6 linked regions of the Homo sapiens genome follow. The protein of the gene in region 1 purifies or fractionates together with the protein of each later gene. This does not show direct contact. Each region holds a gene or a part of one and is shown in the gene's direction. Other genes may lie near its edges. The genes, in order: CDH11, MMP3, ZDHHC11, FBXO36, PDGFRA and HSPA12B.

What was found.
Region 2: the proteins of CDH11 (region 1) and MMP3 purify together in Homo sapiens (co-immunoprecipitation; one large-scale study listed by IntAct). This does not show direct contact.
Region 3: the proteins of CDH11 (region 1) and ZDHHC11 purify together in Homo sapiens (co-immunoprecipitation; one large-scale study listed by IntAct). This does not show direct contact.
Region 4: the proteins of CDH11 (region 1) and FBXO36 fractionate together in Homo sapiens (co-fractionation; one large-scale study listed by BioGRID). This does not show direct contact.
Region 5: the proteins of CDH11 (region 1) and PDGFRA purify together in Homo sapiens (affinity purification with western blotting, with the first as the bait; one study listed by BioGRID). This does not show direct contact.
Region 6: the proteins of CDH11 (region 1) and HSPA12B purify together in Homo sapiens (co-immunoprecipitation; one large-scale study listed by IntAct). This does not show direct contact.

The regions. Positions count from the first base shown.
Region 1 is NC_000016.10:64,988,436-64,993,474, reverse strand, and holds part of CDH11 (cadherin-11 isoform 1 preproprotein), read left to right. Parts: intron 1-440; coding exon 441-560; intron 561-1,539; coding exon 1,540-1,707; intron 1,708-5,039. UniProt on the Homo sapiens protein: Cadherins are calcium-dependent cell adhesion proteins. They preferentially interact with themselves in a homophilic manner in connecting cells; cadherins may thus contribute to the sorting of heterogeneous cell types.
Region 2 is NC_000011.10:102,834,446-102,838,639, reverse strand, and holds the end of MMP3 (stromelysin-1 preproprotein), read left to right. Parts: coding exon 1-89; intron 90-1,238; coding exon 1,239-1,342; intron 1,343-1,873; exon of another isoform or gene 1,874-2,202; intron 2,203-2,413; coding exon 2,414-2,514; 3' UTR 2,515-2,839; downstream 2,840-4,194. UniProt on the Homo sapiens protein: Metalloproteinase with a rather broad substrate specificity that can degrade fibronectin, laminin, gelatins of type I, III, IV, and V; collagens III, IV, X, and IX, and cartilage proteoglycans.
Region 3 is NC_000005.10:840,507-845,545, reverse strand, and holds part of ZDHHC11 (palmitoyltransferase ZDHHC11), read left to right. Parts: intron 1-1,821; coding exon 1,822-1,946; intron 1,947-2,871; coding exon of another isoform or gene 2,872-3,049; exon of another isoform or gene 3,050-3,853; coding exon of another isoform or gene 3,854-3,863; exon of another isoform or gene 3,864-4,701; coding exon of another isoform or gene 4,702-4,743; intron 4,744-4,895; coding exon 4,896-5,039. UniProt on the Homo sapiens protein: Endoplasmic reticulum-localized palmitoyltransferase that could catalyze the addition of palmitate onto various protein substrates and be involved in a variety of cellular processes.
Region 4 is NC_000002.12:229,924,563-229,929,601, forward strand, and holds part of FBXO36 (F-box only protein 36), read left to right. Parts: intron 1-5,039. UniProt on the Homo sapiens protein: Substrate-recognition component of the SCF (SKP1-CUL1-F-box protein)-type E3 ubiquitin ligase complex.
Region 5 is NC_000004.12:54,235,539-54,240,577, forward strand, and holds part of PDGFRA (platelet-derived growth factor receptor alpha isoform 1 precursor), read left to right. Parts: intron 1-4,499; exon of another isoform or gene 4,500-4,514; coding exon of another isoform or gene 4,515-4,577; intron 4,578-5,039. UniProt on the Homo sapiens protein: Tyrosine-protein kinase that acts as a cell-surface receptor for PDGFA, PDGFB and PDGFC and plays an essential role in the regulation of embryonic development, cell proliferation, survival and chemotaxis.
Region 6 is NC_000020.11:3,741,732-3,746,770, forward strand, and holds part of HSPA12B (heat shock 70 kDa protein 12B), read left to right. Parts: intron 1-552; coding exon 553-677; intron 678-3,170; coding exon 3,171-3,357; intron 3,358-3,739; exon of another isoform or gene 3,740-3,761; coding exon 3,762-3,866; intron 3,867-4,183; coding exon 4,184-4,300; intron 4,301-5,039.

The DNA.
Region 1 (5,039 bases):
CTGCTACAGATGGAAGATTGCACTCTGTCCTTTCCTGAAAGCAATTTATCGTTAATTATCATTTATTATACTCTGGGAAGATTTTAATGTAATTATTTGATATACTGAACATTTCAAGTGCATGAGTTGTAAGATATTTTTGCAATAATATTTATAATATTATTTTAATCACCAACCAATGTAGGATGTACTATAAATACAGAAAGTTCATTTTTAAACTGTGGCCATTTTTATAGAGCAGGAAGGAAGGAAGGAAGGAAGGAAGGAAGGAAGGAAGGTTGGTTGGCTGGTTATTTTGCATCTCAACTCCAGGAAAATGAGAGAATGTTGAATAATTGTGGTGCCTTCTTCAGGGTTAATTTTAGAATAAAACTTTGTAAACAAGAACATAATTTGAAAATCTGAGGAGATGTTGCTAATTAATTTATTTCACTTTTAAGGAACGTCAGTAATCCAGGTGACAGCTTCAGATGCAGATGACCCCACTTATGGAAATAGCGCCAAGTTAGTGTACAGTATCCTCGAAGGACAACCCTATTTTTCGGTGGAAGCACAGACAGGTACTGTGGAATGTCACTGTGATTTGTGACACATGGTGAATAAGAAGTCCCAGGCCTGACCAGAACTTATTTAATACTCTGTTTTCTCAAATATGAAAAAGGAATACAGAGGGCTACCCTATAGGGTTAGTGTGAGGATTAGATACTTGGCCTGTGCCTATCACACAGTTAGTACACCATGAAACATTTATTGTTGGTTTTCCCATATTTCACGATGACCCAATAACAACTATAATCTAAAAACTCAACTTTAATATCAGAAGTAAGAGAGCAATAAGGACTAAGTCTTCCACAGTGCTCTCTATATTCCTCACATAACTGTTGCCATATCTACAGAGAGAAAAAGCTTCCAAAGGTCTCCTAAAGATTTAAGTGAGCATGGCACTCATGTGCCAATATCCAGCAATCATGCAGAATTCAGTTATTAATTTATCATTGTTTTCCGTGACAGGTGATAATAGACAGTATGTGCTTATATGAGCATTGTATATATTTTAACCGATTTGGTTCACTCTTTTAAAAATTAATATTTACACTTTAATGTATTGCATGAAATATGCACCTCCTGCTTTAAACTTAATATGCACCATCAAAACATTTCCATGAATTGTATGTAGCAATAGACTTACAGAAGATTGTGCTGGAAGTCAAAAAGTATGAGTTTAGTCATGGATATTCATGCAATGACCACTCAAGTATTTCAGTCTTTAGGGTGTTTATATCTGAGAAGAATAGGGTTATTACTTGAATGTACAACAAAACATAAATACAAATGCTGTATAGTAATTTTTATGATTTGCTTGAAAAGACATAATGATGCTTCAGTATGGCTGCCTTTGGTTGTAATTACCATGTTGAAATGATTCTTGCTGAGGGCATGGGATATTTTATTCAGCATTGCTTCCTCAGTGCTCAGAACTTTCTTGTTGTCATAATGTTATAAACGAATATCTGTGATGTTGCCTGCTTACCTGTCCAGGTATCATCAGAACAGCCCTACCCAACATGGACAGGGAGGCCAAGGAGGAGTACCACGTGGTGATCCAGGCCAAGGACATGGGTGGACATATGGGCGGACTCTCAGGGACAACCAAAGTGACGATCACACTGACCGATGTCAATGACAACCCACCAAAGTTTCCGCAGAGTAAGTAGGTGGACTTGGCTTTCACTTTTCCATGGTGACACAGCCAGCTCTCTCCCTCCTCTAACCTATTCCTGCTTTACTGAGGTATCAAAAAGAAAATCTAGAAAACTAAGGGCAATTCATATCATTCTTACAAAAACAAAACACAAAAACAAGACAACAACAACAACAACAATGTCGGGGAGTAGAGGTAGTAGGAGAATGAAAAGATGTAAAAAGTTCTACAACCCTGGAAACAAAATATCGTTTTTGCTAAGTATTTTGCTTGGTAGTAGTGATGCAATCTAGTAATTAATTAACCCTTTTCTGCCTCAGTGTCCTCATTTCTAACCTGGATATAACAGTCCCTGAATCAGTTATCAATTACTGTGTAACAAATTGCTGGAAAACTTAGTGGTTTAAAACAATAAAAATAATAACAATAATTTGTTTTTATCATGTGTCTGGAATTTGGGCAAGGCTTGGAGGAGACAGCATGCCTCTGTTCTCCATAGCAACAACTGGGGATAGCTCCACTGGGGTTGGAGGATCCACTTCCAAACCAGCTTACTTGCATGGCTGGCAAGTTTGTGTTGATTGCTGCTTCCTTTCTGCGTGGGCTGGTTTTGGAAAGTGTGATCCCCAAGGGCACCAGGCAGAAATTGTCTTGCCTTTTGTTAACTAGCTTCAGAAGTTTCCACTGGAAACTGGAGTCATAAGCCACCAAATGTTTCCACTGGAGTCATAAGGCTCACAAATCTAAGGGGAGTTCATGTAGACCCCACCTTTCAATGGAAGACCTGTCAAAGTCATGTTGAAGGAAAAGCATGTGGGATGGGAGATATTGTTTTGGCCATGTTTTGGAAAATACAGTCTTCCACAGTACCTAATTAATAGGATTACTGTTTGAACTAAAGGAGCTAGTGTAAAATCTTATAATGACAACTGTCTATAAGTCGTCAACAAATTCTAGCCATTGTTATCTGGGGGATTATGGCTGTTCTACAAAATTTATAAAATTGCAGAGGGAATTAAATGAAAAACAATGATTTTGAAAGGTTATTATTAATAATTGTAATTATAGCAACTACCATCATTTAATGAATAGTCACTACTATTGTAAATCTCTGCAGGAGCCTACATTTTACAGATAAAACTGGTTTCCGTAAAAAGTGCATAAGTTGCCCTAGAAATGTGGCAAAGTCAGAGTTTGAACACAAGTCTGTCTATGTATGTACAGATGTGTATGAATGGACAGTATGACTGTGGTGCTGCTGGTGCTGCTAATGCATGGGGGGGTTCATCATGAAAGTGTCTTTTTCAGTTAGAGCCTGTGAGCTTACTATCAGAGAAATGGAACATTTTGCAAATGAGATAACAAGGAAGGCTACTAAATGTGGCCCCAGGAAGGCACTGTGGTTACTCAAAGGAATTCAAAAGCAAGAATCTACACAAGACTCTTTTGCCTGGCCGGGCACAAGTTCAGCATCCTCAATAAGCCTGAGGCTCATATAACATTCAAAGAGCTGCATGCTCCATTATCCACACTGTACGATTGTCTGGTGAGCTGGAAAAGAAAGGTCAAGCAGAATTATTAGCAGGCAGCCTTTACTGCCCTTGGTCATAGACAATCATATAGTAAAGTTACATTGCTACTGTACTGGTTTTACTGGTTTCACTGCCGTGAACTTGAATGAGATTTGGACAAAATCCACATAGGACATTTTTTTTTAAACCTTCACATTAATTGGTAATTATCTACAAGGGACTCCCACTTCCCACTCATCCTTTAATATAGAGGGCATGGTGAGATTAAATAGATTATGAATCCAAAAGAAAGTTGCAAAGCAAAATACTATTGATAAATATAGACAAAGTATTAGAACTGATGAAATCTCTGTAAGGGGAAATTAAAACATAATGAGCTGAAGTAACTTGCCCAAGACCACTTTGCTTGGAAATGATAGAGGAAAGATTTTCAACCCTGGCTTCCCTATATTGTGTGTTGCACAGAGTATTAAATGTGAAAAGCAAATAAGATAATGTTGAATCTTAGCTACTTAGTGCAAACCTTCCAGTGATTTCCCCAAGTTTAAACAAAACCTGAAGTCTTTTCCATTCCCCACAATGGTCTATTTTACGCAATTTGGCCTCCACTTCCTTACAGCCCTTCTCTCTCACCAGAAGGCTGTAGTCACTCTCCTCCTCTTGCTCCTCTGCAAGTATTCAGGATCTTCTCACCTTAGGGTTTTTGCCATTTGCTAATCACCTGGCTGGTAGTTTTTATCCTGCAGATATGCACGTCATTGTCTTCCTCAGTCATTTTAGATTCCTTTTTCTAAAGAATGTCTTCTCCTACCACACTACGCAAAACCAATCTCTCCCTCTTTCTGCTTATCACCCACACATTATTAACACAAGCATGCGTGTTCAATCACACTCATACACATACACAAACTCACTCACAAATAGCTCACATTCATACACACACTCACACTCTTACACAACAGATTCATGCCCACACAATCACTCATGGCCACTCACACATTTACCCCCTCACCCTCACACACAATCATGCACTTACACACCCACAACCACACACCCACTCTCAGAACCCTCACCCTTTTACCCTACTTTATTTTCCTTTTTCATTGCAGTGACATCAGAGTGTGTTTACATTTGTTTTTATTTTTTCTCTTTAGTCGGCCTCATTAAGAGAGGAATCTTGACTGTTTTGTTTAGTAGTAAACAAAACAAGCAAACAAAACAGTGTCCTGGCACTAGGACAGTACCTCCATGTACAGTATTAGGCTCCCAATAAACATTAAATAAATATATAGGAGGGTCACACTGCAGGAAAGCCTTCTGGAGAAGGTAACGCATGACCAACTTGTGAAGCAGGCAAGTTGCGAAGGAGGTGAAATAAGGGGAGTGTCGAATATAGAGTTAGACAGGGAGGGATGTTAAAGTTTGCATTTTTAAAGTAACTATGGAGCTGTTGAAGGAAGGCTTTTAAACAGAGAATTTTTTTTTTCTGGGCTCTTCGCAATACCATAAGTGAGCCTTGGAGTTAACTCATGGACCATCCTGAAGACATGAAAAGAAGCTTCAGCTATTTTGCTAAATGAAGACATGCATGGTTCTCCATCATTACCTGATGGGAAATGTAACAGAGCATTGTTTTTCTCCCTTACATGTGGCAGGTGACCCCAGCATTTCACCTGGACCCAGATATTGTTTTATCACCCTTCGTAGAACACATTCTTTTGACAAGCAGGCCATGTGGGATCCTCCTCCCCACATCCACTCACTTCTTTCATGTTTTCAGTCAATAGAAAGTTCAATTTCAAATC
Region 2 (4,194 bases), on another chromosome or scaffold:
TTCCCTCCAACCGTGAGGAAAATCGATGCAGCCATTTCTGATAAGGAAAAGAACAAAACATATTTCTTTGTAGAGGACAAATACTGGAGGTGAGATGCAAGAGAAATGACTTTGTATGGAGCCTAATTAGGGAAATTAGTTTCTTTTACTAAGGAAATCCCCCACCCCAACCTTAGGCCTGCTTCTCTCTTAGTAGGAAGGATGGGACTTCAGACAACTGTGGGAAAGTTCTTACTTTAAAACAGCAGCACCTTAGGCTCTCCTGCTTTCAGTCCCAAGTGCAGTTGGCTGGTGCTTCCCTTGGTGCTGTCACCCCACCTGCCTGGAGCCCCCTCTTCTCTCCTCAACCTATTCAAATCTTGCCCATCCTTCAAGTCCTGGCTCAAGTCTCATCACCTCCATGCAGCTTTCCCTCGTGGACTTTAGACCCATTGGGAAAATGTTCTGAGAACCCAGACCGCAATTTAGCGTTCCCTTCCCATTGTCTTTTAGTTTGGCTCACTGTCTCACTGTGTGTTTGTCACTGTCTCATTGTGTGTTTGTTTTGTCTTCCTAACACTACTATATGATTTTCAAGGGCTACCTCTAACCTCACCCACTTGTCACCTCTACCTGATAATGATGGCTCATTTAAGAGATGATGATCAATAGCAGTCCAGTTTATGGATACAACCCAACACTCACAGACAGGTTGATTCCTGGGTCATTTGGCCAGACTTTGAGACATCGAGGCCGACCATCTGATATCCAGCCAATGGGCTAAAAACACACTTACTGTGCTTTGCTTCTTATCCTAATCCCTTTTCCCAGGAGGCCACCAGAGAAGATTTAGATGTGCAGGGGAGGGGACAGCAGGCATATATGGGCCAATTGTGGTAGGGAATTAAAATTGCATTTTAGATGTTGATTCAATTCACTTTATATATATGTTCACACTTTCATGTCTTTGTGACAGAAAGATGATTAAGGTTCTTTCTGTCCAGGCTTAAGAAATATGATGACAAACAGCATGTGCTACATACAGCAGGATGCGGCCCCTGTTCCGGATGGAGATATGGCTTTCAGAACTCTTTACAGTACCATTAAAGTCACATATTTCTATAGTCCCAAATATGCTTGGCATTTATTTGCAGTATTTATAAAGTTTAGTAAAATTCCACATTAAACCTAACATGATCTAAGATGTTCGGTAACATGGCCTCTATGCAATGCTGAGCTGTTTCTTTTACTTGGTACAGATTTGATGAGAAGAGAAATTCCATGGAGCCAGGCTTTCCCAAGCAAATAGCTGAAGACTTTCCAGGGATTGACTCAAAGATTGATGCTGTTTTTGAAGAATTTGGTAAGAGGATACTTACTGTGTTGGCCATAGAGCACTTGAAACATTTTATGATATCAGAGGGAAGAGGAGCATTGAAACTTTTTAATAACAAGTGTTTCTTAGGGCCAGTTCCCTTCTCAAAATTTTGATTCGCCTACATTTGTACTCATTATAGAACTACTTCACAAAATAACTTGTTTGGAACCATAAAGATAATTACACAAATCTCGCTACTTTATCTTATACATGCATATAAAATCAAAGTGCTCCAGTGTCACTTACATCTCGAGCTAACATGTGGAGTCAAGCTCGACTTTCAGATTACCATGTTAGCATAAAAATCCCATCAAGTGGTGTGGCCAGGTTTAATGTTGGTTAGCTGGCCTTCTCCTCCACCCTATCTTATTGCTGCTACTAATTCCCAGGGAGATTTTTTGTCTGTCTTTCCTGAGTTGTCAGTCATTGCCCATGCCAGTCATTTGCAAATACTTACCTTTCCATGTGCCCAAAGTTTAAAAAAAAAAAAAGATTTTGTTTTCTACTCAAGGTAAGGAAGTGGAGGCTGATGATCTTTATTGAAAGGTAACCTGATCACCATGTTTGCAGAGCACTAAAGGGTCCCCTGGTGTTTTGAAATAGTTGCTGTGCTTCCTAGGCTGCAATGCAGGGAAAAGGGAGGAGGATTTTTGGGGAAGAAAGAAATAGGTGATGAGAGTTTCCAAGCAAGTGGAGAATTTATCTGATCGGAAGCAGAATAACCCTGTAACCTGGAATCTGGCTGTGTTTTCAGACAGAGCTGGCACCGAGTGCTGTCTCCATTCTTCCTTGCTGAGTAACCTTGAGGAAGCATCGAAATCTGTCTCAACCTCAACTTGCTCAATCTGTAAATGGAGTTAGACATACAACCTCATAGGGTTGTTGCAGAAATAAATGAAAATAAATTCATGTAACAAGCTTGGCATAGTCCCTGACATAAAGTAAAGCTCTATAAACACTTTCTATTTTTAGTTCTCTATGATTCTGAGTTTTGTATATTGTCAAATGTCTTTATTTGGAAAAATATCTTACTATTTCCCTTGTCTGTATTTGCAGGGTTCTTTTATTTCTTTACTGGATCTTCACAGTTGGAGTTTGACCCAAATGCAAAGAAAGTGACACACACTTTGAAGAGTAACAGCTGGCTTAATTGTTGAAAGAGATATGTAGAAGGCACAATATGGGCACTTTAAATGAAGCTAATAATTCTTCACCTAAGTCTCTGTGAATTGAAATGTTCGTTTTCTCCTGCCTGTGCTGTGACTCGAGTCACACTCAAGGGAACTTGAGCGTGAATCTGTATCTTGCCGGTCATTTTTATGTTATTACAGGGCATTCAAATGGGCTGCTGCTTAGCTTGCACCTTGTCACATAGAGTGATCTTTCCCAAGAGAAGGGGAAGCACTCGTGTGCAACAGACAAGTGACTGTATCTGTGTAGACTATTTGCTTATTTAATAAAGACGATTTGTCAGTTATTTTATCTTATTGTTGTGTTTGTTTGTTTCAAGGGCAAGTTGTTCTCATAATTTGGGCACTTTATGGGCTGAGCATGCTCAGCCAGTAGACTAGAGTCTCCATGGCTTGGGGTTCACAATGGGTTCCAGAACTGCAGAGAATCTACCACTTGCCCTCCTCATGAGCCCTGCAAACAGGATGCTTATTTCTACCACCTAGACATTTTATGTGTCCTGACATACCTAAGGCAAAAAATCTAGAGGGGTTGTGACATTGTAGAGCAGGCTCTAGGAAAAACTGTGAAGGGAATCCTATAATCATAGCAAATTGCCTTGTTTGCACATCTCATTTTACAGGGTGAGGAAATCAGACTTGTTTTTCATCTTTTCCTTTTACTTATAAATTCCCTCAGTGCAGGTCCCTCCCCTGACCTAGCAAGCAAACTTCCTCATATCTACCCTATTCACATGGTAAAATATACTCTTGTACTCATTTTGTATCTGCCTGTGCCTGGATGTAAATGCCCATTGGCAAATGACGATTCTAACATTGGTTTATCATCCATAACTAATGTCTCTAGCACAATGCCTCGTACATGGTAAGAGCCGTTTTTAACTTATCCATTCATCTGAGAGTAATTTACAAATCATATTCCATATGCCAGGCATTATGCTAGGTTGCAGGCATAAGAATATGAAAATAATAGACACAGGCCCCTGCCCTCATCGAGATTATAATCCAGCGAAAAGAACACGTGTAGATAACCACAAATATAAATACGCAATTGTAAATTTCATAAGAGTTATAAAGGGAAAAAAATAATAGGAGGATCTATTTTGAACCAGATGGTTTTAGAAGAACTTTTGAGGGAATGGCATTGAAGGAGGTTTTGAAAGGAGGTGTGGAGACTAAGAGGGGAGATGATGGCTTGGACCACATGGGCACACGGGAGAGTTAGGAATGAGAGTAGACTCTATAGATATGAGATAGATAACAGAACTTAGTGATGGATTAGATATGCAATTTGAGAGAAAAGGAAATGTTCCGAGTAAATCCTAGGTAGCTTGCTTGAGCATAAGAGCTGATGGTGACGGCATTTACTGAGATGGGGAAAGACTTGGAGAGAAGAAGGTTTGTGAAGGAAGGGCAAGAGTTAGGATGAATTTTTTATGTTTGCCCATTTTTGAAATGTGTTGGAGAAATTCAAGCACCCAAGAGCTAAAGGAATCTGAAATGCAAAAGAGACACACACATATATATAAAACATATATGTATATGGAAGGTTTCAACATTGAGATTATTCTTAAAGCCAGAAGTATGGGAGAGATCATATGGGGAGAGTTTAAGATAAAACTAATGAATAGCAACATTTGGTCAAAA
Region 3 (5,039 bases), on another chromosome or scaffold:
GTGTCCTGGGAAGACTGTGAGCGCTGGCCTCGGACTCTGCAGGTTAAACACAGGCAGCAGGGGCAGGAGGCTGTGCTAACCAAGAGGAGAATGTCCCTGGGTGGCTGCGGGGAGAGGAGGCCCCGCGTGAATGGCTCTGCCCCATCCTGTGGGCTTTTGTCTCTGTGGTCTTAGAGACCCGCCTTCTTTCCTGGATGAAGAGGGGAGTCCTGTCCAGACAGTAGGATGAAGATGAGGGGTCTTTACTCCCCACAAGTGGGCTCAAGCCCAGGAGGACTGGGGGCAGGGTAGGGCGTGTCCGCTGCCTGGAGGGGCTGCTGCTTGGGAAACCTAAGCTGTGAGAGGGAAGGCAGTATGAGGGAGCAGCAGTCAGGGAGCCGCTCATGCCTGGAGCCACCCGTCACCCCTGGATTATCCAGAAGACTCTTGGAGGGAGGAGGAGCGCGGGGAAGGCAGCTGTGCCCTAACTGCCTCTTCGGAGGACTGCGGCATTCATGCTCTGGCCTCCAGTTGAAAATAGAAAAAGGGATTTAAACAAGCTTAGGTGAACATAATACAATGGAAAGGATTAAAGGAGGTTAAAGGATACTTTTAAAAAAATATCATCATGGCAGAAAGACCAAGGGAAGATGGTTTAGTCAAAGTATGTTCCAGGAACTGCTGCCCAGAATTGGTTTTTGTGGATGGATTATTCTCTGCATCTTTTGAGCAAAGACGAGAGACTGGGAGTGGATTTGGTCTCACGTCTACAGCATGGACATCGCTTTTGGCTCAGATTTGCACGAGACCCTTGGAGAAGGGGGGACTGCAGCCGAGGTGTGGCCGGGCTCCTCCAGGGCCTCCTCAGCCCGAGTTCCCTTTGGGTGCAGAGATCCAGGTCCCTGAGCCTGCAGGCCCTCCTGGGTGCCACGGCACTCTCGTGGCTCTCCCCTTCCCTGGCTTCAGTGCCTTTGCCCAGCATGGTGCCATGGAGACCCCAGCACAGACCATGCTCAGGGCCCCCCGAGTGGACCGAGCCCGCGTGCTCCTTGGCTGGTAGGGAGGCCTGTCTGCATCAGGTGGAGTCGGGAGGTGCGGGCAGAGGCCCCAGAGCTGTGACACTGGAGACGCCGTGTGACCCTCATGCTCCGCTGGTAGGCTTGGGCGAGTCGCACCGCATCTCTGACCTCACTTTCCCCACTCGTGAAAAGGGCTGGTTCCCCCTCCTCACAACCTCCTTGTTCCTTGTGGGGATTAAAGGCAATCACGTTTGCAAGAAGCGCTGCCTGAATTGTCGGGCGGTGTGCTGGTGGGAATGTCCCACGGCCACCCCTCTCCAGCGAGAGGCCTGGAGACCTGGGGGGGCGTCACAGGACGGCACAGAGACAGGAGCCTGAGCTTCCAGGCGCGGTCGGGAGCAGGGTTTGAGGCCAGCGTTGGGCGGTGGCCAGGCGCCCTCAAGTGGACGCCCACACTGACCTGTCACCTCCACCCTGCGGGCTCCAGATGCCCTGCGCGTCCCCACCCCTGCGCCCCCCACACCTGCCCTGCATGCCCCCGCCCCTGCCCCAGATGCCCTGCGTGTCCCTGCCCCTGCCTCTGCACCCCCCACCTGCCCTGCATGCCCCCGCCCCTGCCTCAGATGCCCTGCGTGTCCCTGCCCCTGCCTCCCCGCCCCCACACCTGTCCCACATGCCCCGCATGCCCCTGCCGCTGTGCCCCCCACGCCCGCCCCTGCCCACCCCGTGCACACCCCCTGCCCCCGTGCCCCCCACACCTGCCCCTGCGCCCCCACTGCTCCCACGTCCCCACCCCCATGCCTGCCTGTGTGTCTCCCGGCAGGTTCTTCTTCAGCACTGTGGCCTCGGCCACAGCTGGCATGCTCTGCCTGATCGCCATCCTGCTGTATGTCCTCGTCCAGTACCTCGTGAACCCCGGGGTGCTCCGCACGGACCCCAGGTATGAAGGTACGTGGCCGCCGCTCTCAAGGGGCCTCATCCTCGCCTCCAGCCGTCTTTCCGGGTGGTAGTATCGGGTCTGGGGTGGTCGGCCCCTCTTGTCCCAGGGAGAGGCCGGGGCAGGCAGCCCCATGCAGGCTCTGACCTGGCCCGACGGCAGCAGCCCAGTGTTCATACAGCCCAGCAGCCCCCAGCGCGCGGGAGGCAGGCTCGGGGAGGGCGCTGGCCACGCTGCTCTGTAGATGCTGCCAGGTCGTGTCAGGCGAGAGACAGTGGGGTCCACCTCTGCCCCTGCCCTCCGCAGTCATCCCTGTAGCACCTGTCACACCATCCTGTGGGGCCATGTAGTTGTGGGAGGGTGGGGGTGCCCATCCTGCAGGAGCAGCCCATGGGGAGGGAGAGTGGAGGCAGCGCTGAGGGTGCTGGGCTGTAGGCTGCGGTGCGCTGAGGCCCTTGGCCAAGTGGGCCCGGAGCCTGGGCCTCGGGAACCGATGCTCACACTGAGCCACTGGAGAGACGTGGCGGTGAGGACTGTGGGCTCCAGAGGCGAGTCCACGCCTAACCCAGATCCCGTGATGCCAGCATCCTCGGGAAATGGGCCTGTGGCTGTGACTTAATATCTGAGGTGGGAGGGTCGTGCTGGGATGTCCCAGGGGGCCCAAATCCAGCCACGAGTGTGCTTGTAAGAGAAAGGAGAGACACAGAGGGGAGGTGGCCTCGTGAGGATGGAGGCAGGGGTGGAGTCACACAGCCACAGCCCGGGGTCGCCGGGAGCCACAGGAGCTGGCAAAATTGGGAAGACCTCCCTGGACCCTGCGGAGGCAGCGTGCCCAACTGTCCTGCAGCTGGACGTCAGAGCCCTGCCTGCCTCAGACTGCAAGAGTCTGCTGGAGAAGCTGCCCCCACCCGCCACCATTTGATGTATTTATTGCAGCAGCGCCAGGACCCTGACCAGGAGGACCTGGGCCAGAGAAGCCCCTCGGGGTGCAGGACAAGACTGCCAGTCTCAGCCCCAGGCATGGCTGCACCCGCACTGCACACAGCCCGGGTGGCGAGACAGGGAGGACTTGCCTGCCCTTGTTCCAGAACATTCCGGAGCCAACACGGTGTGACATTTTTTTCAAGGATGAGCTTTGCCAGCTCCACGTGGAAGTCCCTAAAGCTCCTCCTTCCACTTCGAAGCGTGACTGATGCCTCCAGGGCCTCACAGCCGCTTCTGAAGCACTTCCTGAAAGCCAGCTCCACCCTGGCGAGGCCCTGACCTCAGCGGACCCAAGCCCAGGACGATGCCTGTTGCGTTCTTCTCCCCCAGTAGCAAGTCACCTTCCCCAGCAGCCTCCATGTTGTCTGGGCTCTCCCTGTGGGGGATGCCAGGGGAGAGTGAGAGAGCAGAGGTGGCCAAGATGGCATGTGCTGCCTTCTCTCCTGGAACATGCTGCTTCCACAGGGCAGTGCCAGTGTCTCCGTGTGAATTCATTGATTGTGGCCTGAGTGAATTCCTGGGTTTGCTGTTCCAGATGATTCTGCAGGGCTTCAAAACCAGCAAGGCCCTGAGCAAAGCTGCTCCTTCTTCTCATGGGCTGAACTCATCGTGATGTCACTGGCTAAGGGGGGCAGCATGGGGTCCAGCCCGGCCCAGGCACATGGAGCTGCGGTCCTGTCAGGCTGAGTGTGGTGTTTGCCTTCTAGGATGGCCCCGAGGCCACCAGTTCCAGAGAGGGTCTGTCACCGAAAGACATCCATGCTGAGTCACCCAAAGACATCCATGCTGAATCCATCCCTCTGCCATTCTGCCTTGCCCCACCCTCTGCCATTCTGCCTTGCCTGGCCCTCTGCCATTCTGCATTACGCCTGATTTTTGGAAGTGTGGTTTTGAGTGTTGGCAGCCCAGTGTCACAGAGGACCATATCTTAGAAATGACCCCAGGCGAGAGCTGTGGCTTTCCTGTTCTATTTGAAGGCAGCTGTTTTAGGGTGCAGCGGGTCCAGGGACACAGAGTGGGCCATGAGCAAGGGATGGGTGCTGGGGCCTGGCAGAGCTGGCAGGCTCTGTGACCCCGGCACTTAGGAAGGGGTGGGCACCGTGACCCTGGCACTAAATAAGGAAGGGATGGGTGCTGTGACCCTGGCACTTAGTGAGGAAGGGGTGGGCACTGTGACCCCGGCACTTAGTGAGGAAGGGGTGGGCACTGTGACCCCGGCACTTAGTGAGGAAGGGGTGGGCACTGTGACCCTGGCACTTAGTGAGGAAGGGGTGGGCACTGTGACCCCGGCACTTAGTAAGGAAGGGGTGGGCACTGTGACCCTGGCACTTAGTAAGGAAGGGGTGGGTGCTGGGGCCCTGGCACTTAGGAAAGGATGGGTGCTGGGGCCCGGCAGAGCCGGCAGGCACTGTGACCCCAGCACTTAGGAAGGGGTGGGTGCTGTGACCCCGGCACTTAGGAAGGGGTGGGCACTGTGACCCTGGCACTAAATAAGGAAGGGATGGGTGCTGTGACCCTGGCACTTAGTGAGGAAGGGGTGGGCACTGTGACCCCGGCACTTAGTGAGGAAGGGGTGGGCACTGTGACCCCGGCACTTAGTGAGGAAGGGGGGTGGGCGCTGTGACCCCGGCACTTAGGAAGGGGTGGGCGCTGTGACCCTGGCTCTTAGTGAGCAAGGGGTGGGCGCTGTGACCCCAGCACTTAGGAAGGGGTGGGCACTGTGACCCCGGCACTTAGTGACAATGTTGGAGCCTCACCTCCCAGATCCATAAAGCAGGGATCATGAAAACCAACCGAAGGCAGCAGGGCCTACGGGGCACTCAGGTAAGGGAGGCGTCCACCTGGGCAGGGAGACATCCCTCGCACTGGCTGTCCCCACACCGCCCCATCCCCAGCACGCTCTGGTCTGTGACGTCCACCTGATGTGGCACCCGTCAGCAGGTGCTGGACACAGTGGCTCTCCCTTGTCTCCCCAGATGTCAAGAATATGAACACGTGGCTGCTGTTCCTCCCCCTGTTCCCGGTGCAGGTGCAGACCCTGATAGTCGTGATCATCGGGATGCTCGTGCTCCTGCTGGACTTTCTTGGCTTGGTGCACCTGGGCCAGCTGCTCATCTTCC
Region 4 (5,039 bases), on another chromosome or scaffold:
CTGAAGGTCTGGTATTTTACAAGTATGCTTCATTTCTCTCATTTGTAAGCCTCACCAGGCTGAGTATCTTGTTACCTTTTTATTTTAGTAAATTATCCTTAGGAGTGCTCCCTGGCATTCGGCTTCCTAAAGAATAATTCTGTTGTTGGTGTTCTTCAGACTTTGCTCTCAAGTCTAACTTAGGCGCATGCCTTCCTCTAACTACTCTTTTTTTTTTTTTCTTTGAGGCAGCGTCTCGCACTGTCGCCCAGGCTGGAGTGCAGTGGCTCAATCTCAGCTCACTGCAAGCTCCGCCTCCTGGGTTCACACCATTCTCCTACCTCAGCCTCCCCAGTAGCTGGGATTACAGGCGCCCGCCACCACGCCCGGCTAATTTTTTGTATTTTTAGTTGAGATGGGGTTTCACCGTGTTAGCCAGGATGGTCTCTATCTCCTGGCATTACAGGCGTGAGCCACCGCGCCCGGCCCTAACTACTCTTTTTTAAGAAATCTTTCCCACCATCCCTTCAGTGTTCTTAATTTTTCTTTTTCTTTCTTTATTTTTATTATTTATTTATTTATTTTTTATTTTTTGCAAGTGAAAAACTCTCCTTTATCTCAGGTTCTGTCAGTTACATATATATAAAATCCTAAATTCTGATCCATTTTCTTTTTTAAGCATGCTGAATAAATCCACTACACTTCTACCAGTGAGAGTTAATCTCCAAGCTAATTAATTCACCCTCTTTTTAAAGTAAAATTTGTTGTAAAAAATGGCATGCCAAAAAAATATACTTTTCAGTCAACTGCCTTGAGAATATGCTATTTTCTAACCACAAGACAATTTTTCTGAGTCTCAGCACAGGAAACCAAACATCCAGTAAGAGGTGGCCTGACATAAATAAGTACTAAAAGACTAGCATTAAAATATGTTTTATAAGATAGATTTTTTTTCTGGAATGACTTTCTAAAATTATTTCTTGTACATTTCCTCCCCTTTCTCCTGTCTTTATTTTTTTAATGTTGTATATTATCCAAATTATGCCCCAGATTTAGATGAATCCTTCTTTCATGCTGATTCTGTTTTTTAGTCTCTTTTTCACTGCATCTTTTTCGTTGGCCTTAAATCCAAATAACTGCACATTTGACATGGATTTGAGGGCAGATATTTCTCTCATTAGTGTCATACCACCACTGACATAGTCCAGAATATAAATGTTATACATAAACATTTTCTTTGTTTATATAGTAACATTTGAAATATACTGTATGCTTATACAGGCACTTCTCTTTTACTGCTTGATACCATGTTGTTTTGGGTCTTGGGAGAGGGGTTTTATTCAAATAAATAACTTTTGGATTACAGCTTGGGGTCAGTTTAGTTTCTCGAAGCTGATCTTTATAATGATGATCTCCAGCTTTAGAAAAAATAGTGCGCTGCTTTCTAAATCAAAGATTCACTCAAGGGTTGGGCACAGTGGCTCAAACCTGTAATCCCAGAATTTTGGGAGGCTCAGGTGGGAGGATTGCTTGAACTAAGGAGTTTCAGACCAGCCTGGGCAACATAGCAAGACCCCTTCTCTTAAAAAAAAAAAAAAAAAAAAGGGGGGGCTGAGCACAGCTCATGCCTGTAATCTCAGCACTTTGGGAGGCCGACACAGGCAGATCACTTGAGGCCATGAGCTCGAGACCAGCCTGGCCAACATGGCAAAACCCCATCTCTACTAAAAATACAAAAAATTAGCTGGGCATGGTGATGCACGCCTGTAGTCCTAGCTACTCGGGAGGCTGAGGCAGGAGAATCGCTTGAACCCTGGAAGCAAAGGTTGCAGTGAGCTGAGATCACACCACTGCTCTCCAGCCTGGGCAACAAAGCAAGACTCAGTCTTTAAAATAAATAAATAAATAAATAAGATTTACTTGGCCAGGTGTGGTGGCTCACACCTGTAATTCCAGCATTTTGGGAGCCTGACGGGTGGATCACTTGAGGTCAGGAATTCAACACCAGCCTGGCCAACATGGTAAAACCCTGTCTCTACTAAAAATAAAAAAATTAGCTGGGCATGGTAGCATGAGCCTGTAATCCCAGCCACTGGGTAGGCTGAGGCAGGAGAATCACTTGAACCCAGGAGACAAAGGTTGCAGTGAGCCGAGATCTCACCACTGGGCAACAGAGTGAGACCCCATCTCAAAAACAAAAAAAAAAATACTGTTATTCTTACTCTAGCTCTAGTAGTTTACATATATTTTCTTATATTGGATTCTAATTCTTTGAAAACCAGTAGATTAATAAAGTGTTAGGGGTGGAAAGGATCTTTGTTTTTTTTTTGTTTTTGCAACAAGAGCCTCACTCTGTCATCCAGGCTGGAGTGCAGTGGGGTGATCTCGGCTCACTGCAACCTCCACCTTCTGGGTTGAAGTGATTCTCCTGCCTCAGCCTCCTGAGTACCTGGGATTACAGGCACCCGCCACCATGCCCAGCTAATTTTTGTATTTTTAGTAGGGATGGGGTTTCACCATGTTGGCCAGGCTGATCTTGAACTCCTGGCCTCAAGTGATCTGCCCGCCTTGGCCTCCCAAAGTTCTGGGATTACAGGGGTGAGACACCAAACCTGGCCAGGGCTAGAAAGAATCTTGAATATTATTTAGTTTGTACTTTCATGACACATATATATTCCTATTTATAGTGGGGAGAATGTAGCTAGTATTTGATTTGTAAAAACACTTTAATGACTAATCTTTTATATGTTGTATTTTTTTTTAACTCCAAAGGAAGTTCATGACCAATTGGCAAGTTAATGAGTGCAGGTGTTTTAAAATCTATGAGTTTAGAAGAAGCAAAAAATCACTTTATTCTAAGTGGTCCAGGAGGGTACTGTTACCAGTATTGTACTCTTGAAATGTTGTCTTCTTTGTCCTCTCAAAATGGAAGTGTTGCTTAGGTGGCCAGAACAGTTAACTTAGGTTTAATGTGACAAATACTGGAAAAGTGTTAGAAAGAGAATAATGGTATGCTAAGTAGATGGGAACTGGCAGATACGGCCTCTTGCAGCCAATAACCCAGGTGGTTGTCCGAAGAGCACCAATATGTTATAGTTAACTCCAGCAGATGAAAGAAGGAAGAATTGGGCAATAGATTCGTCTTGTTTTATCTCTTTTTCTAAATCCTATCCAAAGCTCCAAAAAGATATATGAAGCTAGTGTCATTTGAAAAAAAAAAAAAAATGAAAAAGCTCACCCCTCTAAAAAAAATGGCAATTATTTTTGAAGTGCATTAGAGTTGTGGCACTAAAGACTGAAAACACCTGAGGTTGCATGCCAGCCTGTGACAGGAAGCTGTCATCTCAATGACTTCTGACAAAAGAATTAAACTAGACTTGGTGATGGCTGGGCGAGAGACAACAAAAAATTGAGCTAGTGCCATTTCATACTGCAGACCAATTTTGAAGATTTAAAATGTAAATGCAGTCTAATAAAAATGTTAATGCACACACCCTTTGACCCAGCAAATCCATTTCTAGGATTTGGATATCCAAAAATGCTATCACATGTGCACAAGGATATGTGAGCAAGATTATTGACCAAAGTCAATAATTGTAAAAACATTTTTCCATGAGAGGAAATGTGGTTAAACTGTGATTCATTCATGCCATAGAATACTATCCAACTTTTCAAAAACAATGCGGTGGATCTCTGTTTACTCAGTAGACCAAATAAAATCTTTAGCAAGAAAAGCAAGTTGCTGGATTAAACATAGCATATCCTACTTTTTTAAAAAAGTGTTTTAAATAAATGTTAGTGAGGTTTTAAATAATTCTTAAAAGAAAAAGCTGGAATGATGCACTCTTAAGAGTTACAGATTTTTACTCTCCGCATTCATATTTCTGGAAGATCTGAATTTTCTACCATGAGCATTTATTTTTATAATCAGAGAAAAGCAATAAAGATTTAAAATGAAAGTGTAAATGGATAACTGTTACTTTGAGGTGGTGTCCTGCCTGTATTCCCCCTATTGGGCCAGCACCACCTTTCACCCACCTCCCTCATTGAATATTGAGGCTGAATATTGAATATTGAATATTGAATAGCTTTGATAGCTGTGTCCCAAACTCCTGCTGTTTTTGTGGAAGGAAAATAATTCTAATTCTACAGTTTTAGAGTGCAAATTGATTAATGATTAATTTTGCAATTTTCCTTGCAAAATTTTAAGGAGGATTTTTGGTGTTTTTGTTTGTTTTAGAGGCAGAATCTCATTCTGTCCCCCAGGCTGGTGTGTAGTGGTGCAGTCAGCTCACTGCAGCCTCAAACTCCTGGGCTCAAGCAATCCTTGCGCCTCTGTGTCCCAAAGTGCTGGGATTACAAGCATGAATTTCTGTACCCATCCTTAAGGAGGATTTAGTGTCTAGAAACTTCTGACCTTTTTTTCTTTTCATTTTTTTTTTTTCTTTTCTGAGACAGAGTCTTGCTCTGTCACCCAGGCTGGAGTGCAGTGGCATGATCTTGGCTCACTGCCTCCCAAGTAGCTGGGACTAAAGGCATGTACCACCCCGCCCGGCTAATTTTTGTATTTTTATTAGAGATGGGGTTTCACCATGTTTGCCAGACTGGTCTCAAACTCCTGACCTCAAGTAATCCGCCCGCCTCAACCTCCCAAAGTGCTGGGATTACAGGCGTGAGCCACTGCACCCGGCCTCTTTTTCTTTTTAATATAAGTAATAATTACCTTTGAGAAACTAAAGGAGCTGGGTATGGTAGCTCACACCTGTAATCCCAGAACTTTGGGAGCCTGAGGCAGGCAGATCACAAGGTCAGGAGATCAAGACCATCCCGGCCAACATGGTGAAACCCCGTCTCTACTAAAAAAAAATAGAAAAATTAGCCAGGCGTGGGAGCGGGCGCCTATAGTCCCAGCTACTGGGGAGGCTGAGGCAGGAGAATGGCTTGAACCTGGGAGGCGAAGCTTGCAGTGAGCTGAGATCAGGACACTGCACTCCAGCCTGGGCAACAGAGCAAGACTCTGTTTCAAAAAAAAAAGAAAAAGAAAGACACAGCCAGGCGCG
Region 5 (5,039 bases), on another chromosome or scaffold:
TGTTTCTCTGTTTCTGTGACTGTATATATTGGCTCATCTTTGAATGGTCTTTATAGCCACACCAGGCTGGAGGTAACAGGGTCATGGGAGTGGACTGCTGGTGTGGGCTGAATCAGAGTTCAGATCCATGTCTCCAGGAGGTAGGAGGTGCAGGGCAAGTCATGTGGCTTCTGGGGCATCCCTCACTTTCTTAGTTAAGGAGAAGTTGAAGGAGCCGATCTAAAATATCTTGGGAGTCTGCAGAAAAAGTCGTGAAAATCAAAGCACTTTCAATTAAACTATATAATTTAGTCCTTACAAGAATGCCACAGGGCAAGCAACCAGTCAGGCCTTGGTAGTCGTGCTTCCTAGAAGAAAAGACTGAGGTTCAGAGAGTTGGATAGAGTATCAGATTTGGGATCAGTGGCTAGTCCAATGTGATTTCCATCCTTTCTTCTGAGAGAAAGCATAAGAAGGCCAAGAGGATGGTGGAAAAGCACAAGTCACCTGCCTGAGAGTCAACAGGGCGGGGGGTCTCTTTCTCAGTTTGTTCCTCTAAGTTATGGCAAATGTTTTTTGAGCTGTGATTATTGAGAATGGGGGCTGAAGTTCAACATGTAGTTGGCATGAGGGAAGTAATTATGATTGAAGAAAAGATTTGGGTGAAATCTAGTGTTCTTCCCTGCAAAGGGGGTTGTTCTCACGGATTCTTATGGTGCCATGTTTCTCAGAATTTGTAGTTTCAGTTACTTATATTTGCACACCTGACTTTAGATGAGCTCCAGAATAGCAGTTACTAATTAAGGATGAGCATTTAGAGTAGATAAAAGTGGCAGGAACAGCAAGACTCACTCCCAGAGAGCCTCACTACAGGTCTAATAGGTGAGGAAATTCCCCATGTTTCCCATTTTTCTTCATTACCTCCCTGTGGGGCAAGCACTGCCATTATTCATGAGTAAACTGTCTGAGTTATAGATAAGTAATGACATGAAACTTCACAAACACGCTGAGCACAGTGGCTCACGCCTGTAATCCCAGCACTTTGGGAAGCCGACGTGGGTGAATCACGAGGTCAGGAGTTCGAGATCAGCCTGACCAACATGGTGAAACCCTGTCTGTACTAAAAATACAAGAAATTAGCTGGCCATGATGGTGGGCACCTGTAATACCAGCTACTCGGGAGGCTGAGACAGGAGAATCGCTTGAACTTGGGAGGCAGAGGTTGCAATGAGCTGAGATCATGCCACTGCACTCCAGCCCAGGCGGCAGTGCAAGACTCCATCTAAAAAAAGAAAAAGAAAGAAAGAAAAAAGAAAAAAAGAAAGTTCACAAACAGGCCTGATTTCTACCCAGGGAACCACTGTTATCAGAGATTGGGGTTTGGAATCTTAAGCAACAAACACATGTTTATTCTCTTCCTTCCTGATGGCTTGCTCAGAGGACCTGTTTCCATTGCCCACTTTTTTTTTGAGACAGAATCTTGCTCTGTCACCCAGGCTGGAGTGCAGTGGCGAGATCCTGGCTCACTGCAACCTCTGCCTACTGGGTTGAAGCCATTCTCCTGCCTCAGCCTCCCGAGTAGCTGGGATTATAGGTACCTGCCGCCATGCCTGGCTAATTTTTTGTATTTTTAGTAGAGATGGGGTTTCATCATGTCGGCCAGGATGGTCTTGAACTCCTGACCTCAAGTGATCTGCCCACCTCAGCCTTCCAAAGTGTTGGGATTACAGATGTGAGCCACCACGCCCGGCCTCATTGGCCACTTTATATGTCAGTAAATAATCTTTCCTGGCAGAGGGTCCACTGTATCTGGAGGCACTGAAGGAAATCTGGGAGTGTCTGGCCAGGGCAAAGCACTGCTTAGAGCTTGCACAGGAAAAGCAGTGAGCCCTTCTTTTAAGCTGGAGAAAGCTTTAAAGATGCATCTTTGGCAAGTCTTGCCAAAGAAATATGGGTTCTAAATGTGATAAAACCAAAGACATCAAGCTGGCTCTGGAGGCCTTGTTTGAAGTTTGCTGAGTGGATTGTCAGTGGGAGGCTGATATTTATATGTACAAACACACAAGCATTACTGCTAATTGTGGTAAATCAGGCTGGCCAGCCTGGCTCTGGGGCCCACTGTGCCTGCCACCGCAGCAGTGTGGAAGCCTTGCATCCCAGGCACATGTCAGGATCCTCGGAGGCCATCAGCCAGCCAGCATTGTGTGAATTGCATTTGGGTTCACAGCACTGTAATTGTGTTTCTCCTGCTGTGGTGAGCAAAGGAGGAAAATGGAAGGAGGAGGTATAATTTGCCCTAGGAAATAGTCAGGCAAGTAGGTGGCACACAGGGGTGGGATATGGCTAAAACACTGACCTTCCCTTGAGAGAGACCATATGGTGAAGTGGAGAGGGCATGGCGTTTGTATCACACGACCTTGTGTTCAAATCCTGGCTCTGTCACTGGCTGTGTGACTTTGGGTCATTTGCAAAACCTCTCTGAGCCTCAACTGCCACTTCTTAAAATCAGCTCTAAGTAATCACAGGGTTATTCTTCACAAACACAGCATGCACATGCAAACTTTGGCTTAGTAAATAATGGTTTCTCCTTCTCTTACTTTGTTTTCTACATACCCCACTCCCCTTCCTGTGAGGAGCCTTCCACCTTTTTCTCTGTGTTCTCTTCCTCTCCCATTTTCCTGGTAGCATTCAATAAAACAGAAATCTGATTTCTGCAAAGTAGGCCACCTTACGGTAGAAATACATGATTAGGCCCCACCAAAAACTTTGATTAGGCTATTATCTTCTGGATCCTGGATCCCCTCCAACCAAACCAAACCCAACTAGGGCTAAACACAGCAATATATGAATACATTGAATTTCTCTCTCACTCTTTCTTTTTTTTAAACCAGTTTACTCAGGAATCACATGCACACATATTTTAGCTTCCAAAGCCAATGATGGAACAAATTGTGTCCCATTAGGCTCACTCCATTGTATGAGTTAGCATCAGAGGAGTTCATACCAGAGTGACTTCATCTTGAATAGGGCCTAGGTAAGAAGAGGATGAGACCTGCTGGGCTGCATTCCCAGGAGGTTACACATTTGTAGTCACAGGAGAGAAAGGAGTTGGTATAGGAGTTGATAGATACAGGTCATAAAGACCCCAGTGATAAAACAGGTTGCAGGCCAGGTTTGGTGGCTCATTCCTGTAATCATAGTACTTTGGGAGGCCAAGGCAGGAAGATTGCTTGAGCCCAGGATTTCAAGATGAGCCTGGACAACATAGTGAGACCTTGTCTCTACAAACAATAATTTTAAAAACATGAGCTGGGCATGATGGTGCAGGCCTATAGTCCCAGCTACTGGTCTGAGGGGCAGTTGGGTGGCAGGCTGAGATGGGAGGATGGAGGCTGCGGTGAGCTGAGATCAGGCCACTGCACTCCAGCCTGGGTGATGGAATAAGACCCTGTCTCAAAAATAGATAAATAAATAAATAAATAAGCCAGCAAAACCAGAATGCAGTGAAGAAGCTGGCCAAAACCCACCAAAACGAAGATGGTGATGAAAGTGACCTCTGGTCATCCCTACTGCTTATTACACACTAATTATAATGCATTAGCATGTTAAAAGACACTCCCACCAGTGCCATGGCAGTTTACAAATGCCATAGCAATGACCAGAGATACTCTATATGGTCTAAAAAGGGGAGGAACCCTCAGTCCTGGGAATTACCTGTCCCTTTCAGGGAAAACTCATGAATCTTCTACCGCTTGTTGAGCGTATAATCAAGAAATAACTATAGGTATACTCACTCAAGCAGCCATGCAGTTGCTGTGCCCATGGAGTAGCCACTCTTTTATTCTTTTACTTTCTTAATATATTTGCTGTCATTTTACTCTTTTGGCTTGCTCTTGAATTCCTTCCTGCATGAAGCCAAGAACCTTTGTGACCTCCCAGGCTGAACCCCAATTTTGAGTTCCACCCTATGACATCTTTTCTGGTGACCAATGAAGGGACAATGGTAACCTCCCGTTGACTTTAAATTAAAACTGATTGGCACTGTTTGGGCTTCACCGGTGGGTGAGTCTCTCCTTGCCCAGATTCAACTTGCTAACATTTTTTTCTCTTCAATTTTGGCTCCTTTGTCCTTCCTAATGTTCTTCATTTTGGACAGATGGGAAAGTGGCTGTGAGGCCTCTGGCTTAGCAGCCTGATAGCAGCCTCCTGTTGTCTGGGTGCCCCAGATGGGAGCACGCCTGGCTGGCCACATCTTTTGCAACCCACCTTGTCATCCCTTCTCTGGGACCTTTTCTCTTTAGTTTCTTTTTTAAAAAAAATTTTAAATTATTTATTTATTTATTTATTTTTAGAGATAGCATCTCGCTGTGTTGCCCAGGCTGGAGTGCAGTGGCATAATCATGGCTCACTGAAGCCTGGACCTCACTGGCTCAAGTGATCCTTCCACCTCAGCCTCCTGAGTAGCTGGGACTATAGGCATGCACCACCACGCCTGGCTAAATTTTGTATTTTTTTTGTAGAGACGGGGTTTTGCCATGCTGCCTAGACTGGTCTTGAACTCCTGGGCTCAAATGATCTGCCTGCCTCAGCTTCCCAAGGTACTGGGATTATAGGTGTGAGCCACTGCACCTGGCCTCTCTTTAGTTTTTAATGACTGGCTGTTTGACTTCTCTGCTCTTCAGGCTGAAATTCTTATTTCATGTTTGTAGTCTTTGCCTTGGCTATTTGGCAACTGTTTAAGGCAAGACACTTGGTTTTGAGAGTTCTCCCGTTGTGTTGACCCTGGGACACCAGGGTCATTGTTCTGTAGCTCCAATTATGTTAGGTCTCATGCTTTTGGGTTTCACTATTGGCCACCCCCCAGATGCTCTGGGGTTTTTGGCATTTGGTGTGGGGACCCTTGTTAGCTGATACTCTGGGCTTTTCGGCATTTGGATGCTCCAGGGTGTTTGGCACTGACATTCCCCTCTAGCATTGTGGGTTAGAGTCCCACCCAGGGGAAATCTTGGTTTTGCCTTTTCTTGTTTTCTACTCTAAAGTTATCATTTTCTATAAAAACA
Region 6 (5,039 bases), on another chromosome or scaffold:
CCAGCTTAGGGACCCCCTTATTCTTAGGGGAGTCCAGCCCTGGCATAGGAGAAGGCACACACTTCTCTGGGGACATGCACGTGCCCTCTCCTCTCTGCCACAGAATCAGACAGTCTGGTTTGTGTCACTATGGCCACAAAGAGCAAGAGGATAAAATATATACACTGGTCCATGTGCTGTAAAACTGCCTGGAGGAGCAAAATTGCTCCCAGCTGGGCCCAGACTAATGGCTGCCTATGAAGATGGTGTGAGGTGGGGGTGGGGCTAAGGCAGTCCAGAGGGAGGGTGGGCAGAGGCTGGAAGCAGGAAAGCAGGAGCTTGAGCCAAACCCTGCCTGGGGCTACCTGAGAGACACGTCCAAGGCTCAGCCTGGAGCCTGGGAGGGCAAGGGAGCCCGAGCAGGTGGGCAGGTGGGGTGGGCCAGGTCCAGGGCTGGTCTGGACCACAGTCAGTGGAGGGGAGTGTCTTCCCCATGCAGAGGAAGCATTGGGGCTGTGGGGGATGGGGGTGTCCCTGCTGGCTGCTTGCTAATTCTAAGTCTTGCACTTGCAGAAACCCGAGGTCCGAGCCCCCCAGCAGGCCTCCTTCTCTGTGGTGGTGGCCATTGACTTCGGCACCACGTCTAGTGGCTATGCTTTCAGCTTTGCCAGTGACCCTGAGGCCATCCACATGATGAGGTGAGGTCGGCTGGGCTGAGAGAGTGAGGTGGGGAAGGTGGGGAGTTCCTCATACCTTGGTCCCAAAAGTACTGTCACCGAGACATGGGGTCTCCTTGGAGGCCCTGCCACCCCCAGTCTGGGGCTCCCCACTGGGGTAAAAGTTGGAGGATGGGCCCCAGGCCTGGGTCCTTGGCCTCAACTGGAGCAGCTCCCAACCCTCTGTAGGAAAAGTCAGACTTTGTTTTTAATTTTGAATTTTTTTGAGATATAACAAACATAACAATAAAATATGCAAATGTTTTTTATTTTCCTTTTTTTTTTTTTTGAGGCGGAGTCTCACTCTGTCGCCTAGGCTGGAGTGCAAAGGCACGATCTTAGCTCATTGCAACCTCCACCTCTCGGGTTCAAGCGATTCTCCTGCCTCAGCCTCCCAAGTAGCTGGGAATACAGGTGTGCGCCACTATGCCTGGCTAACTTTTGTGGGGTTTTTTGTTTTTTTTTGAGACGGAGTCTCACTCTGTTGTCCAGGCTGGAGTGCAGTGACGCAATCTCAGCTCACTGCAAGCTCTGCCTCCTGGGTTCATGCCATTCTCCTGCCTCAGCCTCTTGAGTAGCTGGGACTACAGGCGACCGCCACCACACCCAGCTAATTTTTTTTTTTTTTTTTGTATTTTTAGTAGAGACGGGGTTTCACCGTGTTAGCCAGGCTGGTCTCAAATTCCTGACTTCGGGTGATCCGCCAGCCTCGGCCTCCCAGAGTGCTAGGATTACAGATGTGAGCCACCAACCTGGCCTTTTTTTTTTTTTCTTTGAGACAGGGTCTCGCTCTGTCACACAAGCTGGAGTGCAGTGGTGTGATCATAGCTCACTGCAGCCTCAAACTCCTGGGCTCAAGCAATCCTCCCACTTCAGCCTCCTGAGTAGCTAGGACTACAGACAGCACCACCACACCTGGCTAATTTAAAAAAAAAAAAAAATTTTTTTTTGGAGAGACAGGGTCTCACTGTGTTGCCAGGGCTGGTCTTGAATTCCTGGCCTCAAGTGATTATCCCACTTTAGCATCCCAAAAATGCTGGAATTGCAGGCGTGAGCCACCATGCCCAGCCCACAAATATTTTTCTAAGCTTGTAGACAAACACACACATATACAAACATATATGTGTTTTTTTAAGTAAAAGTGAGATATACAACTTGCTTTGTTTTAAAGCTTCAACACTATTTTGTAGATATTTCATGTCAGCACATACGAAGCTACCACTTTCTTTGAACGGCCTAGTATTCCATAGTACAGATGTGTCATAATTTATCCATTCCCCTATTGACAGTTTTAGGGGGGTTTTTTCCTCCTCTCATTTTTCACTATTACAAAAAGTGCAGCAGTAATATCCTTCTTTGAAAACTTGTGCCGCAATCTCCATGGGGTAGATTCCTAGAGGTGATTCCTAGGTCCAACATCTCAAATCTTTTTTCTTTTCCTTTTTTAGTAAAAAGGAAAAGAAAAAATAATAAAACAAGAAATAAAAATAAAAACAAGAAAATGAAGGTTCTAAGGGCTGAGTTGACAAGTCACACAGTTGTTTTGAAAGACATGTTTCAAAAATCCATTCAAATGTTGGGTTTTATGTGGGACCTCAAGGACCTTGGGACCTCAAGACCCCAGTCCTCTGAATATGTCCTAGAGGGTCGGCAGGCAGTAGGTGAAGCTACAGGAGACCTCAAAGCTCTCAACCCAGACTGGGATGGGAGGTAAGAGGGGCTTCCCAAGGCCTGGAGACTGGATGGAAGGGTGAATGGAGACATAGACAGACAGGTAACTGCTCCCAAAATACATGGGACTTGAGCTTCATGAGACTGGACTGTCCTTCCTTCCACATCACAGGAAACCACAAAGGCTCTGAGCACTTACAGCCCTCTAGGAGCTGCAGGGCATCCCAGATGTCTTGCTGATCAACACACATGGCTGAGGCCATGCTGGGGCTAAGGACACATCCAGGAACACTGTCTCTGTCCTGTGGAGGTGACAGTCACAGGAAATAACTGGGGGACATTCCAGCCTCCTCCCAAGCTCTCTCTTCCCACCAGACACCAAGCCCCTAACATCTCTAGAATACCCATCTACTTCTCTCCATGGCCACTGATCGTGCCCAAGTTCAGCCCCGACCTTCTCTCACCTGGATGGCTGCAATATCCTCCTCCTTGGTTTCCTTTCTCCATGCTCCCTTCCCTGCATTCTGTTGCTCCATGGGAGCCAGTGACCTTTCTTTCTAAAGGCAAATGTGGTCATACCTCTTGGCTACTTTAAATCCACGAAGACAGAATTCTGAATGGCCTTCTGTGCTCTTCATGATCTCACCTTAGCATTCTTGTGTTTTCTCCTGCTGCCTATGGAGCCGACCCATAGCTAGTTCTCCCTGCTCTTTCACATCTGTAAGTTTTTGCACATGCTGTTCCCTCTGCCTGGATTCCCACCCAAGAAGGGAGGGTTGCACTGACTGCCCTGTGCCTCCGCAGGAAATGGGAGGGCGGAGACCCGGGCGTGGCCCACCAGAAGACCCCGACCTGCCTGCTGCTGACTCCGGAGGGCGCCTTCCACAGCTTTGGCTACACCGCCCGCGATTACTACCATGACCTGGACCCCGAAGAGGCGCGGGACTGGCTCTACTTCGAGAAGTTCAAGATGAAGATCCACAGCGCCACGGTGAGTCACAGGGCTCCAGACAGGGAGGCGGGGCCAGCATGGAAAAGGGCAGGGCTAATGGGGGTGGGTGGGACAAAACCAAAACGTGTGAGGACCGGCCCGATGGAGTCGTGGCTGAGAGGGGGCGGGGCTAAAGGGAGACGTCGGACTCCGGTGTGGGCGGAGCTCAGAAATGAGGTGGAGGCGGGGCTAATGTGGGTGGGGCTAATAGTGAAGCTGGGGTTGCAGGAGGGGTGGGGCTAAGGAGAGGGGTCGGGGCAGAGCTAATGTCACATGGGGCAAGAGTGGGACGGTGGTAAAGAGGAGGGGAAGCTCCAGGAAACGGGGTGATTTTAAGAGCGAGGTCGTCAGGAAATGAGTGCCAAGCTGAGGCCTCCTGCAGAGCCGCCCTGTGTCCCTGCCAGGATCTCACCTTGAAGACCCAGCTAGAGGCAGTAAATGGAAAGACGATGCCCGCCCTGGAGGTGTTCGCCCATGCCCTGCGCTTCTTCAGGGAGCACGCCCTTCAGGTGCGCTGCGGCCCCACCTCTGCCGACTGTGGCAGGGACCCCCTATTTTCCCCTCATCCGAAACCGCTCCCCCATCCCGTCCCCGACATTGGATGGGTAGCCACCGCCGGAGCTCAGAGGTCATCTTCTCCAGTACCCTCCTCCCTTTTTGTCTGGTAGAGCCTGCACCAAGCCATACTGATGGGAGGGGGGCCGATTCTTCCAGCTCTGCTGGGAAGTCCTTCCTGTGATTTGATTAGTACCTCCAGTTCCGCAGAGGGCTGAAGACCACCCTCCCTCCAAGCCAGCTTTCCTCTCACTGCCCCCTCCTGTACCAGGAGCTGAGGGAGCAGAGCCCATCGCTGCCAGAGAAGGACACTGTGCGCTGGGTGTTGACGGTGCCTGCCATCTGGAAACAGCCAGCCAAGCAGTTCATGCGGGAGGCTGCCTACCTGGTGAGGACGTGCAGGCGGGCCCGAGAACACTGCTCAGGAAGGGCCAGGCCTGTCCCCATGCTTGCATGCACCCCACCACCCTTGAGACCACAGAGTCATTGTGGAAAGAACTTCAGCCTGCTCCTGATGGGAGTTTGTAGAGTTGCTCCCACCAGAAGAGGGAGTGGGCCTGCAGGAACAGGGGACAGAGGGACAAAAGACACAGCCCAGGCCAGTGTAGACAGTGCCTTAAGTCAGGTGTCCTAAAAGCAGAGCCCAAGATGGAGAGTCTTTTTTTTTTTTTTTTTTTTTGAGACAGTCTCGCTCTGTCGCCCAGGCTGGAGCGCAGTGGCGTGATCTCGGCTCACTGCAAGCTCTGCCTCCCAGGTTCACGCCATTCTCCTGCCTCAGCCTCCCGAGTAGCTGGGACTACAGGTGCCCGCCACCACGCCCGGCTAATTTTTTGTATTTTTAGTAGAGACGGGGTTTCATCGTGTTAGCCAGGATGGTTTCAATCTCCTGACCTTGTGATCCGCCCGCCTCGGCCTCCCAAAGTGCTGGGATTACAGGCGTGAGCCACCGCGCCCGGCCAAGATGGAGAGTCTTATATGTGAGGTCTATTGAAGAAGGTTTCTCAGGAGAAAGGCGAGGGAGGGAGGCGGGACAGGAGAAGGAGCTATGAAGGATGTGGTCTTTGCTGGAGTCTAGCCTCAGGTTTAGCCTCAGCTAGATCCCATGGGGAGCTGCAGAGGGAGAACTG